Linked DNA regions of Homo sapiens: regions 1 and 3 are each linked to region 2. Evidence: fine-mapped expression QTL. A gene starts in region 2. Each other region holds a variant in brackets. All regions are shown on one strand. Distances are between the middles of the regions. Region 1 overlaps OSBPL6 (oxysterol binding protein like 6). Region 2 holds the start of OSBPL6 (oxysterol binding protein like 6). Region 3 overlaps PDE11A (phosphodiesterase 11A).

Region 1 (2,817 bases), 110 kb after region 2:
ATAAAGAACATAAATTTCTTTCTCACAGTTCCGAAGGCTGGGAAATCAAGGCACCAGCAGGTTAGGGCCCTGTCTCTCTGCTCCCAAGAGGCACTTCAAATGCTGCATCCTCTGGAGAGGAGGAACCTCATGTCGTCATATGGCAGGAAAGCAGAAGAGAGAGAACCCACTCCCACAAGCTGTATCAGTCAATTCTCATGCTGCTAATAAAGACATACCCAAGAGCACCTAATTTATAAAGGAAAGAGGTTTAATTGACTCACGGTTCTGCATGGCTGGGGAGGCCTTAGGAAACTTATAATCATGGCAGAAGGGGAAGCAAACACTTCCTTCTTCACATGTCAGCAGCGAGGAGAAATGCCAAACAAAAGAGGAGAAAGCCCCTTACAAAACCATCAGGTCTGACCTCTCATGAGGACAGGATGAGGGTAACCGCCCCCAAGATCAAATTACTTCTCATCTGGTTCCTCCCATGACATATGGGGATTATGGGAACTACAATTCAGGATGAGATGTGGGTGGGAACACAACCAAACCATATCACAAGCTGTTTATATAGTGGCACTAACCTAGTCACAAGGGCTCCACCCTCATGACCTAAACACCTCCCATTAGGCCTCACTTCCCAATACTGTTGCGTTGGGGTTAGGTTTCTAACACATGAATTTTGGTGCACATATTCAGACCATAGCAACTGTCATGGCCTACAAGGTCCTGCAGGGACTGGTCTCTGCATTTCTTTGACCACCATATCGCCATATCTCTGACTCTAGTCATATTGGCTACCACTCATCTGTTGATCATGTCACGCCAGACACCCTGGTACTTAGTAAACCGCTCATTCTTTGGACCTCAGCTCTAACTCCCAGATCCATTAGTTCACCTCAGTCACTGTCTTCATAATGCCCATATATCTCCATCTTTTTTTGTTTATCTGATTCAGTGTCTCACCCTCTGGACTGAAGTTCAGGTCTCACTTTTTTGTGGCCTAAAAATTGATTTCTGTTTCCTGCTAGCAGCTTTCCTTCCCAGCCTGTGCTAACAAGCCTACACAAGTGTTCTGGTGTTCTGTACTTCCTCCAAGAAGATATTAGCATTAAGATGGGGGCTAGAATGTGACCTTCTTCTTGTAAGAGGATAAAGTTCACTTTAATTGTCTATCTTTTGGGAAATATCATTTTTTAAGCTTTTAATGTTATACCATAGTGCTTACCTTTTAACATTTTTTAGCATAGCTGTGTTGGAGACAAGGCCAATTTAAGAGCTTCTCTCTGACACAAGCTTTAACCTTAATACTAACAATGCAAACCTTCCTTACATGAATCCAAGTAAAAAAATTGAAGTGGCTGTTGGCTGTGCATAAGTGAAGGAACTCCATTTACCCCTGCTCTAAGATAACCTGTCAATCTGTAGATGTTTGCGAGCATGTTGGTTGTTGAGAGTCACATGTAGGCATGCTGTAGTTTTGAGGTACAAATAAATGTGGATATATGTATTCCTGGATCCTTCACAAATGCTGGATCACAGGATGCACACAATGTGTTAACTCTTTTGTAACTGACTACTTTGTGTTGGATTAACCGTCACATACATGACATAGCTAAACTAAACTGAAGACAAACATGGACCGAGCTCTTATTCTAGTCCATTGGGTAGGAGAGATTACGTTTCCGGAGGAGAATCTGGCGTCTTTAGCATCAGGGTCTCAAATATAGCGTTATAATCTGCTTTAAAACAAAGAAAATGCAAGAGGAGAGAATATGACTTTAGTACATGATTTCTTCCCATTTTGCTTGTTAACAGTCCTTTTTTTTTTTTTTTTTACACACTGA[C/T]ACTTTCATCTTCCGCCTTAAAATCTAGAGGAAGAAGTATTTCCTAATGTGTCAGAGTTCCTCCTCTCACTAACACAAATTAATATTTCATCCTAAAGATAATGATTTTAATTTGACTTTTAATTACTTATATGAGGCTTGTTTGTTTTGCTTTTAGGTGGTTTGGACACCCTCAATATTGCCTGCTCTTTTCTAGTCAAACCTGATTCATGAAATGGAATGAAGCTGAAAAATCATCTACTTCTTTGTTTGTGGATTTGAGAGAAGATTGGGATGGTCTTAAGTGCATAAAACGAGACTCTAACTGCAGCGATGAGTTCAGATGAGAAGGGCATTTCCCCTGCTCATAAAACATCCACTCCAACCCATAGAAGTGCCTCCTCTTCAACATCCTCCCAAAGGGACAGTAGGCAGGTAAGAGAAGAGCATTAAGTGCCTTTGGTTGTTTTATGCAAATGCAATACCACTGAGATAGGATGGGGTTGCTAATTAATTCTGAAATTTTGTTGTAAAGTCTTTTATTCCAAGTGAAAAATCGTCATTTTCTGTAGGTACGTTCATTGATGTCATGAAGCTCCCACTCTTGCTTCTCTGTGATTTAGGACTCTTTTTTAGAAGGCAGACACAGAAGGCTGGTAGGGTGGCTATGAGAAGCCCTGCCGTCTTTTCCTCCCTGCACCTGGAGGGGGAGCCAGCATCAAGAACTTGAACACTCTTCTCTTCGTTCATGGAGGTGGAAAGGGAACTGTGAACCCTGCAAAGGACGTCTTCCTATAAGGCTGTCACTGGGCTGCCAAGCCCTAACTCTGTTTGGTATTTTGTGGAATCTGGTAACAGCTAGATTCAGGAATTAGGTTACAGATAAAATTGTAATACCAGGAATTAAGAGCTGTGAGAACCCAAACAATGTTTACAGGCAACAGAGAAAGTAAATGGTTATTACTTAATCATGGTAGAAAACGCCCATGGTCCCATTTGAGCCAGT
Region 2 (2,855 bases):
TTTCCGTTCACACTTTTGTATTTCTTTTTAAATACATGGGTTTTAGCTTTTTTTCTTTTAAGGGAGAAAGCCATTTCAGTAGAGTTTCTGTTAATGGAACTCAGAAGGAGTAAGTAGAAAGGGTGGCTGTGATGAAGCAGAGGTCAGCATCCCAGCTGCTCCCTTGAGGAGCCTGTCTTCACAGCAAAGGAATGAAGGACAAACTGCCATTGTCGCAGGGTCCCGCATCTATTATTTTGTGACCAGAGGACATGAGAACATTGCTAGTCTAGATGGAAAAAGCTAATCCAACAGGTGAGATTGGAGATTCAAGAGAAACTGCATGTGGGAAGGAGTGCATAAAGTCGACTATGTTTCATAGCAAATCATTTTGTCAGCACAGGGCACAATGAAATGCCATCACAGTTGCCTCATTAGTAAGCAATATCTTCCATTTTTGAAGGCACCCCAGCATGTTCTGTAATAGCTCCCATTAAGTCCAGTCGATGTCCTCTGGACTCCCCCTCCGCCTCCCACCCCCAGATGATGATGACACAAATGTCTTGAAATATTGACATGTCCGCAGTCACTCGTTTACAGAATGTCTGTACAAATATTTACATTACCCCGTCCCTCCCAGCAAATTTGCCTTTAGATTAATCTGCACACCGAACGCAGGCCGGGAGTGGCTTGGAGTGTGGAAGGGTTTAAGGGTGTGGAAGGGTTGTAGTGAGGCGGGACTGACTGACTTTGATCGGCTTTGCCAGGGGCTTGAAGGAACCGGCTCTTCCTTTCGCAGAACCCAGGTGTTTCTCTGGGCCCGGGAAGTTTTTGCTCCCGAGCGAGTCAGGGACGGGAGCAGGCACGCACAGTCGCGTAAGTGTATGAAATGACGACCTCAGAAGGGCGCCCAGGGACATGGGTTTGGCAGCCCCGAGCGGAGGCCGCCAGGCAGCCGTTCCTTTCGGAATTCGGTCTCCCGCAGTGCTCCCGGCTGCGGCGCTCCTGGGCCGAGCGCTGGAGCCGTTCTGGGCAACCCTCCCGAGCGCGGCCGGCTCACCTCCGCCGGACTGCGCGGGGCGAGGGCTCCGCTACTGCGCGCAGGCCCGCGGATGGCAACTCGGGGTTTCCACTGCGGGTGATCTCGGGACACCACGGGTTCCCACGGAGGCCGGGCCAGGGGAGAGCCCTGGCTGTGGGACCCCGCGTGACCAGGGCGCAGGGCGCCGGGTCCTTAGCCCATCTGGCGGCGCAGGGAGGGGCGCCCGGTAGGGCGGGTGCGCAGCATGAGCCCCAGCCGCTTGCCGCTCCACTCCAGCCGGGCGGACGGGCGGGAGCCGGGGGCGGGGAACCCGGAGCGCCGCCCCGCCAGCGCGCCCCGCCCGTGGGAGAGGAGGGGCTGCAGCGCAGCGGACCACTGGAGGCGCAGCACGGTCGCCGCCGCCGCTGTCGGTGCTGGAGATCGCGGCTCGGTGCAGGCGGCGCCCATGCCTCCTCTCCTCCACTAGCCCGCGCGCCAGTCCGCCTGCCGGGGCCGGCTCTCCGCCTCCTGCCTCCCGTCGCAGCCGCGCAGCCGCCGCAGAGTCCGCGGCGCCACCGCTCGCCCTCCAGGTAGGTGTCCTAGCTGCAAAGGGATTGCTTGGGGCGGGCGCCAAGGTGCCCGCATCGCGGCCCGGGGGCATTGTGCGCCTCCGGCGGGCCGAGGACCCCGAGGGACGCGTGGGTGGGCAGCCGCAGCTTCGGGTCCCCAGGACATCGCCGTCCCCCTGGAGGCGCCCCCGGCCGATAGCCCGGGCTACAGGGAAGTGGGGGCGGCGGTGTCAGCCCATTCTCGCGGCCGGGATGGGAGGGGGCGTCTGTATCGCGGTCCCGGTTTGCCGCCCTCCCTCCCCCTCGTTGCCAGGGAATTCCGGCCGCCTGCCACTAGCGCTCGCATTCCCTCGCGCGGGCCGGCGCCCCTGCTCCCCGCAGGCTGCCTGGGGATTGAAGCAGGGGCAGGGAGAAGGACTGATGTAATTGTCAGCGGAAAACCGAACCGGCGCGGGTGAGAGCGCCCGCGCCCGCGAGAGCTAACGCCTACGCCGCACCTTTCAGGGAATCGGGGAAGCCGAGAGGAGCGGCTGGGGAAGTTGTGCATTGGGTTTTATTGTGCGCGTGCACTGCGGACTGCCCTCGCGGGGCACCCCTGCCCACCCGCTGCTGGCGCCCCTGCAGCCCTCCCGGCAGCCTCCGTCCACTCCCCCGGCCAGGGCCAAGTCTGCCTTCCCTGGTTCAGACCGGGACAGCGTTTGCATTGCAGTCAAGACGTGCTTCCCCTGCATCAAGCCGGGAGCTGCCCGCAGATCGTGTCGCCGGGGATGCTGGGGGAGGAGGGAATGGGAGACCTGAGGAGAAAGCCTGGAGAAGTAATGACACAAGCGGATTTTCTCCCCAAAGCTTCTGCTGCGTATAGACACATCTGCAAGGCACCTTTTAAGCTGTTTTTGAAAGTTATAACCAGATACTGATTTTGTGACAATTCTATGATATACCTGAACGGTTGCTTAAACATAGAGACCTAAAGCTAGGGGAAGCATTACATAATGGACATGAAGCAAATGACACGAAACTAAGTGAACCCACTGGGTTGCCAGATTATTTCTCTCTTCTGGACACAAAATCCTGTAAGGTTTTTTCTATAGGAACTTTCATTTTTAAATTGCTGGGCTAAGTTTAGCCAATTGTCTATTATATTCAGTTGTGATTTTTTTTTTCTAAATAATTTTCTTGGACATCTTTTCTTAAATTTAAAAATTGCATACTAATGGTTACATATCACTAAGCTGATTAGGAAATGTAGTCTTCACAAGGTAAAAATAAGAAATTTCCCATCTTAA
Region 3 (2,500 bases), 260 kb before region 2:
AAATGAATATATTCTTGGAAACACACAATCTCTCAAGATTGAATCAGGAAGAAATTGAAACACAAAACAGACCAATATCAATATCTGAGATAGAATCAGTAATAAAAATCCTACCAACCAAATAAAATCTCTGGACCATATGAATTGAATTCTACCAGATGTACAAAGAAGAGCTGGTACCAATTCTACTATAATTAGTCTAAAAAATTGAAGAGGAGGGATTCTTCCCTAATTCATTCTATGAAGCCAGCATCACCCTGATACCAAAACCTGGTAAAGACACAATGAAAAAAGAAAACTACAGGACAATATCTTTGATGAACATAGACATGAAAATATTCAACAAAATTCAACAATACATAAAACCAAATTCAACAGTACATCAAGAAATTAATTTACCATAATCAAGTAGGCTTTATTTCTGGGATGCAAAATTGGTTCAACATACACAAATTAATAAATGTGATTCACCACATAAATGGAATTAAAAACAAAATCAAAAGATCATCTCAATAGATGAGGAAAAAGCTCTTGATAAAAATCCAACATCCCTTCATGATAAAAACCCTCAAGAAATTAGGCATTGAAGGAATATTCTTCAAAATAATAAGAGCCATCTATGACAAACCCACAGCCAACATCATACTGAACAGGCAAAAACTGGAAGCATTCCTCTTGAGAACTAGAATAAGACAAGGATCCCCACTCTCACCACTCCTATTCAACATAGCACTGGAGGTGCTAGCCAGAGCAACTAGGCAAGAGTTAAAAAAAAAAAAAGGCATCTGAACAGGAAAAGAAGAAGTCAAACTATCTCTTTTCGCTAATGATATGATTCTATACTTAGACAATCCTAAGGACTTTACCAAAAGGCTATTAGAACTGATAATTTTAGCAAGGTTTCAGGATGTAAAATTAATGTACAAAAATCAGTAGCATTTCTTTACACCAATAATGTATAAGCTGAGAGCCAAATCAAGAACATAATCCCATTTACAATAG[C/CCA]CACACACACACACACACACACAAATAAAATACCTAGGAATACATCTAACCAAGGAGGTGAAAGATCTTTACAAGAAGAACTACAAAACACTGTTTAAAAAGATCGTAGATGACACAAACAAATGGAAAAAAATTCCATGCTCATTGATTGGAATAATCAATATCATTAAAATGGCCATATTGCTCAAAGCAATCTATAGGTTCAACACTATTTCTATCAAACTACCAATGTCATTTTTCATAGAATTGGAAAAAACTAGGCTAAAATTCATATGGAACCAAAAAAGAGCCCAAATAGCCAAAGCAATCCTAAGCAAAAAGAACAAAGCCAGGCTGGGCACAGTGGCTCATACCTGTAATCCCAGCACTTTGGGAGGCCGAGGTGGGTGGATCACCTGAGGTCAGGAGTTCGAGACCAGCTTGATCAATATGGTGAAACCCCATCTCTACTAAAAATACAAAAATTAGCTGGGCATGATGGCTTGCACCTATAGTCTCAGCTACTCCAGAGGCTGAGACAGGAGAATTGCTTGAACCAGGGAGGTGGAGGTTGCAGTGAGCCGAGACCACACCACTACACTCCAGCCTGGGTGACAGAGTGAGACTCCATAAAAAATAAATAAATAAATAAATAGCCAGTGGTATTACTCAACTTCACACTATCAGACTATACTACAAGGCTATAGTAATCAAAACAGCATGTACAAAAACAGACACATAGACCAATGGAATAGAAAGGAGAATCCAGAAATAAAGCCACACACCTACAGTCACCTGTTGTTCAACAACATCAACAAAAATAAGCAATTGTGAAAGGACTCGTTGTTCAATGAATGGTGTTGGGATAGCTGGCGAGCCATGTGCAGAAGAATCAAACTGGACCCCTACCTTTCACCATATATAAACATTAACTCAAGATGGATTAAAGATTTAAATGTAAAACTTCAAACTGTAAGAATCCCAGAAGAAAACCTAGGAAACACCATTCTGAACACTGGCCTTGGGAAAGAATTTATGACTAAGTTTTCAAAAGCAATTACAATAACAACAACAAAAAAAATTGACAAATGGGATCTTATTAAACTATAGAGCTTCTGCACAACAAAAGAAACCATCAACAGAGTAAACAGACCCTACACAATGGAAAAAACATTTGCAAACTATGCATCAGACAAAGGTCTAATATCCAGAATCTAAGAGGAACATAAACAACTGAACAAGCAAAAAACAAATAACCCCATTTAAAAATAGGCAAAAGACACAAACAGACACTTCTCAGAAGAAGACATACAAGTGGCCAAGAAACATGTAAAAAAATGCTCCACATTACTAATCATCAAAGAAATGCAAATCAAAACCACAATGAGATACCATCTCACAGCAGTCAAAATGGCTATTACTAAAAAGTCAAAAAACAACAGATATTGGCCAGGCTGTGGAAAAAGGAGAATGCTCATACACTGCTGGTGGGAATGTAAATTACTGTAGCCACTGTGGA

What was found.
Region 1: its variant is fine-mapped to the expression of OSBPL6 in whole blood (TOPMed, PIP above 0.99).
Region 3: its variant is fine-mapped to the expression of OSBPL6 in subcutaneous fat (TwinsUK, PIP 0.95).

The regions. Positions count from the first base shown.
Region 1 is chr2:178,304,041-178,306,857 of GRCh38, forward strand. It overlaps OSBPL6 (oxysterol binding protein like 6), which reads left to right. Exons shown (of 25, transcript NM_032523.4): 3 at 1,990-2,246. The coding sequence starts at 2,145. Among named protein-coding and RNA genes, the nearest start is that of CHROMR, 110 kb to the right of the region's middle. The variant C/T (reference allele first, on the strand shown) is at 1,833.
Region 2 is chr2:178,193,085-178,195,939 of GRCh38, forward strand. OSBPL6 (oxysterol binding protein like 6) reads left to right here and starts at 1,428. Exons shown (of 25, transcript NM_032523.4): 1 at 1,428-1,590. RefSeq lists silencers at 982-1,671, 2,118-2,412.
Region 3 is chr2:177,932,066-177,934,565 of GRCh38, forward strand. The region is part of intron 2 of PDE11A (phosphodiesterase 11A); the gene reads right to left. Among named protein-coding and RNA genes, the nearest start is that of PDE11A, 140 kb to the right of the region's middle. The variant C/CCA (reference allele first, on the strand shown) is at 1,003.